Regions from separate parts of the Homo sapiens genome. Here region 2 is linked to region 1. The links come from fine-mapping of genetic effects on gene expression. A gene starts in region 1. The other region holds a variant in brackets. All regions are shown on one strand. Distances are between the middles of the regions.

What was found. PIP is the estimated chance that this variant, and not a neighbour inherited with it, causes the effect.
Region 2: its variant is the best candidate, but not a certain one, in a credible set for the expression of COA4 in whole blood (TOPMed, PIP 0.73).

Annotation. Positions count from the first base shown.
Region 1 is chr11:73,874,753-73,879,155 of GRCh38, forward strand. COA4 (cytochrome c oxidase assembly factor 4 homolog) reads right to left here and starts at 2,094. Exons shown (of 2, transcript NM_016565.3): 1 at 2,005-2,094. It overlaps PAAF1 (proteasomal ATPase associated factor 1), which reads left to right and starts at 2,247. Exons shown (of 12, transcript NM_025155.3): 1 at 2,247-2,316; 2 at 4,027-4,067. The coding sequence starts at 2,270. RefSeq lists enhancers at 2,345-2,394, 2,415-2,484.
Region 2 is chr11:73,706,154-73,710,556 of GRCh38, forward strand. It overlaps RAB6A (RAB6A, member RAS oncogene family), which reads right to left. Exons shown (of 8, transcript NM_198896.2): 6 at 1,267-1,360. Among named protein-coding and RNA genes, the nearest start is that of RAB6A, 53 kb to the right of the region's middle. The variant GAAGT/G (reference allele first, on the strand shown) is at 2,338.

The DNA of each region.
Region 1 (4,403 bases):
CGAGGCAGATGGATCATAAGGTCAGAAGTTCAAGACCAGCCTGGCCGGGATGATGAAACCCCGTCTCTACTAAAAATACAAAAATTAGGCGGGCGTGATGGCAGGCACCTGTAATCCCAGCTACTCGGGAGGCTCAGGCAGGAGAATCGCTTTAACCCAAGGGGCGGAGGTTGTAGTGAGCCAAAGATCGTGCCACTGCACTCCAGCCTGGGTGACAGAGTGAGACTCCATCTCCAAAACAAACAAACAAACAAAGTGAAAGAGTGCCCAAATATGGGTAGGTTTTGACACATGGGAAGGATGGAAAGAGTTCACTGTGGCTGTAGCATACAGTATGCAGAAACCTGGCCTCTGGGTCTATAAGGTGAGATGGCTTTGTAAACTATACAAAAATGTGAGGTGTATTTATTTGCCCAAACTGTCTTGCCCGTCTGCATCAGAACACTCAGCAGAAAGCAGCATACAGAAGGAACTTAAGGTTTGAAGAGAAATGACTTCAGCCTTTGCAAAAATTTCACCATGATGGGCTGTAAAGCAACTAGGACTCCTTATTGCCTTAACTGTGTCTCTCATTCACTCAACAAATGATTAAGTACCTATCATGTACCAGGCACTATGCTAGTGCTGAGGATTCAAGACTGTCTAAGTCAGTTAAGTTCCTGGCTTCATGGAGTTTACAACCTAGACAAGGAAACAGGGCAGTTTACTACACAGTGTACAGATAGCAAAGACTGGGACCACAGTGGAGGGATGCCTAATCCAGACAAGGGCAGGAATAGGCAGGGAAGGCTTCCTAGAGGAAGTGATTTCCAAGCTGAAACTTGACAGATGGAACAGAAGTTAGCCAGAGATGGGAAAACTATTTTTGGTCAATGGAAGAGCAGGTGGTTGAGATAGAATCTGACACATGAGAGCAAAAAAAAAAAAAAGTTCAGTGATGGGAGAATACAGTGTGAGAATAAGACAATATTAAACTGGCGATATAAGTAAGTGATCATCACAAGGCTTTGTAGGACATAGTAGGGAGTTTAAGACTTTTTATTCTGAGGGCAATGGGGAATCACAAGAGGGAGTTAGGCACTTTACACAACTCATTTGCCTTGGAGGCGGTATAACTTAAGCAAGAGGGAGAAAATGGGCTTTGAAACAGACTTGGACCTAGCTTTGTCACTGCCTCATTTGGTGCCCTTGGACACATCATTTAATAACCTCTCTGGAAGCACAGAGATGAAGCCGGGTGCCATGGCTCACGCCTGTAATCCCAACACTGGGAGGCTGAGGCGGGAGGATGGTTTGCGCCCAGCCTGGGCAACACTGTGAGCCGTGATCACGCCACTGCATTCCAGCCTGGGTTACAGCGGGAGACCCTGTCTCAAAAAAAAAAAAAAAGAAAAAAAAAAAGGTAAGGTTTGTAAGGAGGCTGGTATGTCTAAAGAGTTCAATAAATGATAGTTTTCTCTTCCTAAATACACTGTTAACTCTTTAAATAGGGCCAGGAGCAAATAATTTAGAGAAAGAACAGTGGAATAGAAAGTGCCTTGATCCTAAACCAAGAGATCCGTGTTCAAATCCCAGCACTACGCCTTACTATGTAATCTTTTTCATTTTAGTTTTCCCATTAATAATATTTAATTCGCACAATTAGAATGAAGATTAATATAACGAATGAAAAGCGCTTGGGCTACTATAGGACTCAGTAAATGCTGCTGTACTCTCCTCTCACCACCTTTTGGCTTCAGTCTCCTCTGGAGTAAAATGACGACGACCCCTGCTCAGAGATCAGGGTAGGCTAGATGGTTGGCAGCTGGATCGTGGAGGCTGGCCTAAACAAGGAAGTCATGGAAAGGATCTTAAAGCAGAAAAATGCTGGCAGCCACGAGGCCTGAGGCGCCTCAGGCGTATCGAGGACTTTGAACTTTGAGGACGCATGCGCGCGCGCGGCCGCTGATCGCAGCCCCGTTGTGCCCGCAACGCCTCCTGAAGAACGCGGTACGCGATGCTCACCGAACAGGTGGGAGAAGAGGGCCCGAACGCACGCTCCTACGCGGCGGCTTGGGTTTCGCAGGCGGTTGGGGATCCTCTGTACATCCTTTCAGGAACCAGCCCCTCGTGGGGAGCGTGCACACGGAAGGGGCGGGGAATGTGAAAAAGTCACGTTTTCATTGGTGGCCTCTTGGTGTTGAGCCCACCTCTGTCCTCGCCGCACGCTTCTCGGGGACTCACTTCCGGGAAGGGGCGGAAGAGGTGGGCTGGTGGAGGCGGGGTCGAGATGGCGGCGCCTTTGAGGATTCAGAGCGACTGGGCGCAAGCCCTCAGGTGAATCCAGGCCCAGAACAGAGTCAGAGGAGGCGGGTAGTGGATGTTGCTTTGCGTCAAGGAGAGCCATGCCTGGTCCAGGATATCAATAGGGGTTACTTCGTCAATTGTCGAGGGATATGGAGGGAACAGGGTCCGGAAAAAGAAGTATCAAACCCGTATGGTCATTCTCTGAAAAGCTATCCCTAGGCCAAGGGAGCACATGAGCTGTGTGATCCCCGCGTCAGAACTAGTATCAGTGAGTTGGAGAAAGACAGGGATACTGGGAGGCAGGAAGGCTTTTGGCCAAGCAGTCATTTAGCAAATATTGATTAGTCGTCAGTTACTTCCAGAAGTCTCTGTACTCACCACCACTTTGTGTATGTGATGGAACCTTTGTATTCTCCTAGGCCCCTAATGCTATATTAGGCATACTGGACGATACTATTAAGGAAACTAATACTGTGTCCAGGCCCCATACTGGATGCTTGGTGGAGCTCAGATGTATACTCTAAATATAAGTGATGGTTCCTGCTCTTCAAGAAGCTGACATCCAGGCCAGGCGCAGTGGCTCATGCCTGTAATCCCAGCACTTTGGAAAACTGAGATTGGTGGATCAGTTGAGGTCAGAAGTTCGAGACCAGCCTGACCAACATGGTGAAACTCCGTCTCTACTAAAAATACAGAAATTAGTCGGGCTTGGTGGTGGGCGCCTATAATCCCAGCTACTCGGGAGGCTGAGGCAGGAGAATCGGTTGAACCCAGGAGGTGGAGGTTGCAGTGAGCCGAGATTGCACCACTGCACTCCAGCCTGGGTGACAGAGCGATACTCATCTCAAAAAAGAAGAAAAGCTGACGTCTTAATTAGGAATACACAGCAAACTATTCATTCATCTAACATTTATTGATCTTATACTATTCCAGTTATTTCTCTAGGCTTCAGGATGAATATAGCAGTGCTATATTTGGCAACTGCTACTACTAATAAGGGTTTTTCAAATTGAAACAATGGTGAAGATGAATGAAACATAGCCTTCTGCATTTAAGAAATTTACACCTTACTAAATTTATACCTTACTTAATTTAGGTGGGCTAAAATACAGACTAGTTGCTAGTACACAGAATGTGATAAGTAATAAAGAACAATAACATGAAGTGCCACTAGCTACCTATGAGAAAATACAGCACCAGAATCAGAAGGCTTAATTTGCCCAAGATCATGCATCTCGTCAAATGATAGAGGGTTGCTGTCAACCTAGATCTTTCTGTCTTAAATGCATAGACCCTTTCCATTATACCCTAAAAGTGCTAGGGTGAAGAGATCAGGATTTGGATGATTGGGCAGGTGCTAAAATAATAAAAGGAATCTTGTTTGGTTATTGTGAGGGTTAATGATTGTGTATGGAAAGTGCTTAGCACAGGGCTTGGTTTACAATAATCCTGATAAATAATTAAATAACCTTGATTTTTCAAAGTGAGCTCACTGTTGATGGATGAGCATTAATTTAACCAACAGATATCTATTCATTAAATAGTTAATCCACAAATATTTCTTGAACAAATAAAGTTTGTCTGTCTTAGAATGATCTATACTCGATGAGAGGTTGGACTATCTCATGTCTAAGTACTATGACCAAGCTGGAGGTTACATGACCTTCTTTCTTCCCTTGTAACTATGGGATCCTATTCAACTTTGGGTAAGCCTAATTAGGCTTTTGTCTTTCTTCGTAGGAAGGATGAAGGGGAGGCCTGGCTGAGCTGTCATCCCCCAGGTAATACCCATGAATTATATATGCTGTGACTTTAAAGGAGAAGGATTAATACCCTTAAAAGAAAGCTTCCTACTTTCTCCTGGCCCAGCCTCCTTACATAATAGTCTGCAAACATGCTTGACCAGTCTGTACTGTATGGCCAACACCCCAACTCCTCCATTCCAAGGGAAGGCCTTCAGATTGATTTTCCATTTGAAAGCCACAGACTTATTCATGGAGACATTGTTGATGCATCTTAATTAGTCACTTACCCTGTGCTATTGTATTCTAAGCACTTCTGCAGCTTCAACTGGGACTTTCTTGATGATAATTTCTAGATCTACAGCCCCAGCCCTG
Region 2 (4,403 bases), 170 kb before region 1:
CTTCCTAAAGCTTTAACTATTTAAATGATGTTACTGTTACCCTCTGTTGATCACCCTCAATTAAGAAAATTATTGGTCTAGGCCGGGCGTGGTGGCTCACACCTGTAATCCCAGCACTTTGGGAGGCTGAGGCAGGCAGATCACGAGGTCAGGAGATTGAGACCATCCTGGCTAACACAGTGAAACCCCGTCTCTACTAAAAATACAAGACATTAGCCAGGCGTGATGCAGGCACCTGTAGTCCCAGCTACTCGGGAGGCTGAGGTAGGAGAATGGCGTGAACCTGGGAGGTGAAGCTTGCAGTGAGCCGAGATCGCGCCACTGCACTCCAGCCTGGGCGACAGAGCAAGACTCCATCTCAAAAAAAAAAAAAAATTATTGGTCCATAAATCTTATAAATCTGGGACCACTACCCTACATGATATACAGCCTTGAAGAGTTAAGCATGTGAGTCTCTGGCTGACCTATCTTGTAGAAAATGGCTTGATAATGTGACATCTCCCTATATTTTCCTGCCCTCCCCCAAAAAGACCTGTTGTAAACACTGTTCAAACACCAGCATTTTATTAAGGATAAAGTAACCAGAATTTACTTTTACAACAAGAAGTGGAACACCATTACTGACAGTAAATACTTGCTTTCATTTATCTCAGTCTTGGCATCAAACTCTGAAATAAAATTTACCGGCCGGGCATGGTGGCTCACACCTGTCCCAGCACTTTGGGAGGCCAAGGCAGGCGGATCACCTGAGGTCAGGAGTTTGAGACCAGCCTGACCAACATGAAAAAAACCCCATCTCTACTAAAAATACAAAATTAGCTGGGCATGGTGGCGCATGCCAGTAATCCCAGCTACCCGAGAGGCTGAGGCAGGAGAGCTGCTTGAACCCAGGAGGTGGAGGTTGCAGTGAGCCGAGATCACGCCATTGCATTCAAGCCTCGGCAACAAGAGCGAAACTCCATCTCAAAAAAGAAAAAAAAAAAAAAAAAGAAAAGAAAATTTACCTTTAAAGCAATGTAGTAGGAATGTAGTGACAATATGGTAGATTTACCACTTTGCAGTAGTTCTATCCACGATCTGAAGTTTGCAAGTCTTTTCTCTTTTTCCAAAAACTATGCCACATTTATATTTTTCACTGTTTGAAAATATACTGCTAGTTTGTAAGGCCTGCTCTTGCCAGGTGGAAGGAAACCTATACACCAGAGAATAGAATACTCACACAATTATTTCATATTTTTTCAATTTGGTAACCTCAACTCAACTTACCTGCTTTACATTGTATCCAGCTTTTGCACTAGTTTCAATAAACATAACATTCAGCTCTTTGGCTTTCCTCTCTCCCTCCTCAATTGACACTTGCCTGTAAAGAAACAAACAAACTTCTTACTTTTGAGACATGAGGCAGTATTATAAAGATTATAAAGAAAGCTCTGAAAATAACTTTCCTTGATATAAGGACTGGTTATACAGGTCACATTAGTTTAAAAATTCATTAATCTGCCACACTCTTGAAATTTGTGTGTTTCTGTGTGTGTATACTTAACATTTTTTTAAAGACTTTTTTTTGTTACTGATTTGCTTTCACTTGACTGGGCTCATCCTGTAATTTTTTTACTTTTACAAACTTAATAGCTTGAGGATGCTCGAGCCCAGGAATGTTGAGGCTGCAGCAGGCCATTATTAGGCCACCACATCACTGCACTCCAGTCTGGGCAACAGAACCTGTCTCAAAAAAAGAAAAAGCTAAAAACAAAACAAAACAAAAAACGCTTAATAGCTTGCCTCTTTCCCTTAATATCAGACCACAGGCTTTTAGCCTTAAAATTCAAATCTTTGTGTAAAACAATTTTTATGGCTAAACAATTTCTGTCAATTTGCTCCTATAATTTATATAACCATTCCCAAACTATTAGAATGCAAGTTGCTTTCCAATTTTACACTACTATGAAAATTGTTGCCCTAAATATCTGTGCTTAATATTTTGTGCACTGCAAATCATTTCCTTAGGTTAGATTTTGTGGTTTTCTTTTTTTTGAGACAGTTTTGCTCTTGTCACCCAGGCTGGAGTGCAATGGCGCGATCTCAGCTCACTGCAACCTCCAACACCTGGGTTCAAGCGATTCTCCTGCCTCAGCCTCCTGAGCAGCTGGGATTATAGGCGCCCACCACCACACCTGAATAATTTTTGTATTTTTAGTAGAGACAGAGTTTCACCATGTTGGCCAGGCTGGTCTCAAACTCCTGACCTCAGGTGATCCACCCATCTCAGCCTACCAAAGTGCTGGGATTAGAGGCGTGAGCCACCGTGCCCAGCCGATTTTGTGGATTTCTGTAAGT[GAAGT/G]AAGTGAGTCAAAGACATGTATGGTAAAGCCTCTAGATACAAAATATTAATACTTTAATATTACCTTTACAGGGTATTTTGTGATGCATTACAATTAGCACTATGTCTCAAATTGTGAGATCTCAAGTGCAAGATTATGTCATTTATATTGGTATTCCTAATGCTTAAGCTGGCAGATAAGTATTCCATAAATATACAAATGTTCTAATTAGCTAGATTTAAACTATCAGCTGACAAACCCTGCTTCCTACAACACAGAAAATGGGCAATGGAAGAGAATTTCCACAAGCTTCCATTTACTTGCAAGTGTGCCCTTATATCCTACCTCTAGTCCTATTACTATGAAAGAGTTGTCCTTATTCTCAAAACTTACATCTATGTATTAGATCCCACTCCCTTCTTGCCTACAAGAAATTATTATTCTAGAATTCTCCACTCCCTAAAAACAAGAACATTCTCTTACATAACACTCCAACTGTTAAGATTTTACATTTGCTTGTGTTATCTTCTCATTCTCTCTGTGTATATAAATTTTCTGAAACACTTTTAAAAAACTGTTTGAGAGTAAACCGCCAATCTGCAGACCTTTAGCCCTAAATACTTCAGCAGTGTGAATTTCCTAAAAACAAGGACATTCTCTTATATAACCACAGTACAATTATTAAATCTGGGAATTAACATCAACATCATACCATCATTGAATCTATAGGTTTTATTCTTGTCAATTATCCCAATAATGTCCTTTACTGCCAGTTATTCCAATGTCCTTTATAGCAAATTAAATACTTCTTTAGAAAGAAACTTTCTCAATTATTTGGTTATCCTGAGGTACTTAGAACAAGGAGGGAGGGAGTGACGGAGGGAGGGAGAGGAAAGGAGGATAAATGCTCGAGTCAGTCTCTGGCATCTTCCAAAGGGGACCAATGAGTTTTCTCCTTAAGTATATTATTATTATTATTATTATTATTACTATTATTATTATGACTCGTGGATTTAAACATGTTTTATAGTAATTACTGATTTTCAAGTTTTCCTACAGTTTGACCAGTAGAGCTTCTTTGAGTTGGCTCTCCTGAATCTGACATAACCTCAATGGTCTTTAATAACTTCTTTGATTTATGGTATGACATGTTCCAGCCCCACTGTTTACATTTTCTGGCCCAGATGCCTAATTTGTCACTTCTTCAAGTAGCCCTGGTTCCTTTGGAAAGAAACCGTATTTACATGTGGTAATGTGGGCTCATTCCTCCTGGTTTAAATCTTTTCAGTAGACAGAGCTAGAAAATATTAAAAATTTTCAAATGCTAAAAAATGTAATGAATTCATGCATATATATACATATATACACATATATATACATATATACATATATACACATATACATACATATATACATATATATACACACACATATATACATATATATACACATATATATACATACACACACACACACATATATATATATTTTTTTTTTTTTTTGAGACGGAGTCTTGCTCTGTCGCCCAGACTGGAGTGAAGTGGCACGATCTCGGCTCACTGCAAGCTCCACCTCCCAGGTTCACGCCATTCTCCCGCCTCAACCTCCGGAGTAGCTGGGATTACAGGCTCCCGCCACCACACCCGGCTAATTTTTTGTGTTTTTTTTTTTTTAGCAGAGACGGGGTTTCACCGTGTTAGCCAGGATGGTCTCGATCTCCGGACCTCGTGATCCACCCGCCTTGGCCTCCCAAAGTGCTGGGATTACAGGCGTGAGCCACCGCGCCCGGCCCCCATGCTTATATTTTTTATATTTAACTTTATTAATCTTATATCTGTATTTCCATCTCCCGTGTCCAAAATGCCAGTTCTCAATCATTAAGCAAAGTATTCATTTATTTTATGCAGAATACAGACAATCATTTTGAAATAACAATATCCAACATCATCACCAACATGTTTACTAAAAACAGTTAAGATCTAGCCGGGTGTGGTGGCTCACACCTGTAATCCCAGCACTTTGGGAGGCCAAGGCGGGTGGATCATTTGAGGTCAGAGTTCAAGACCAGCCTGGCCAACATGA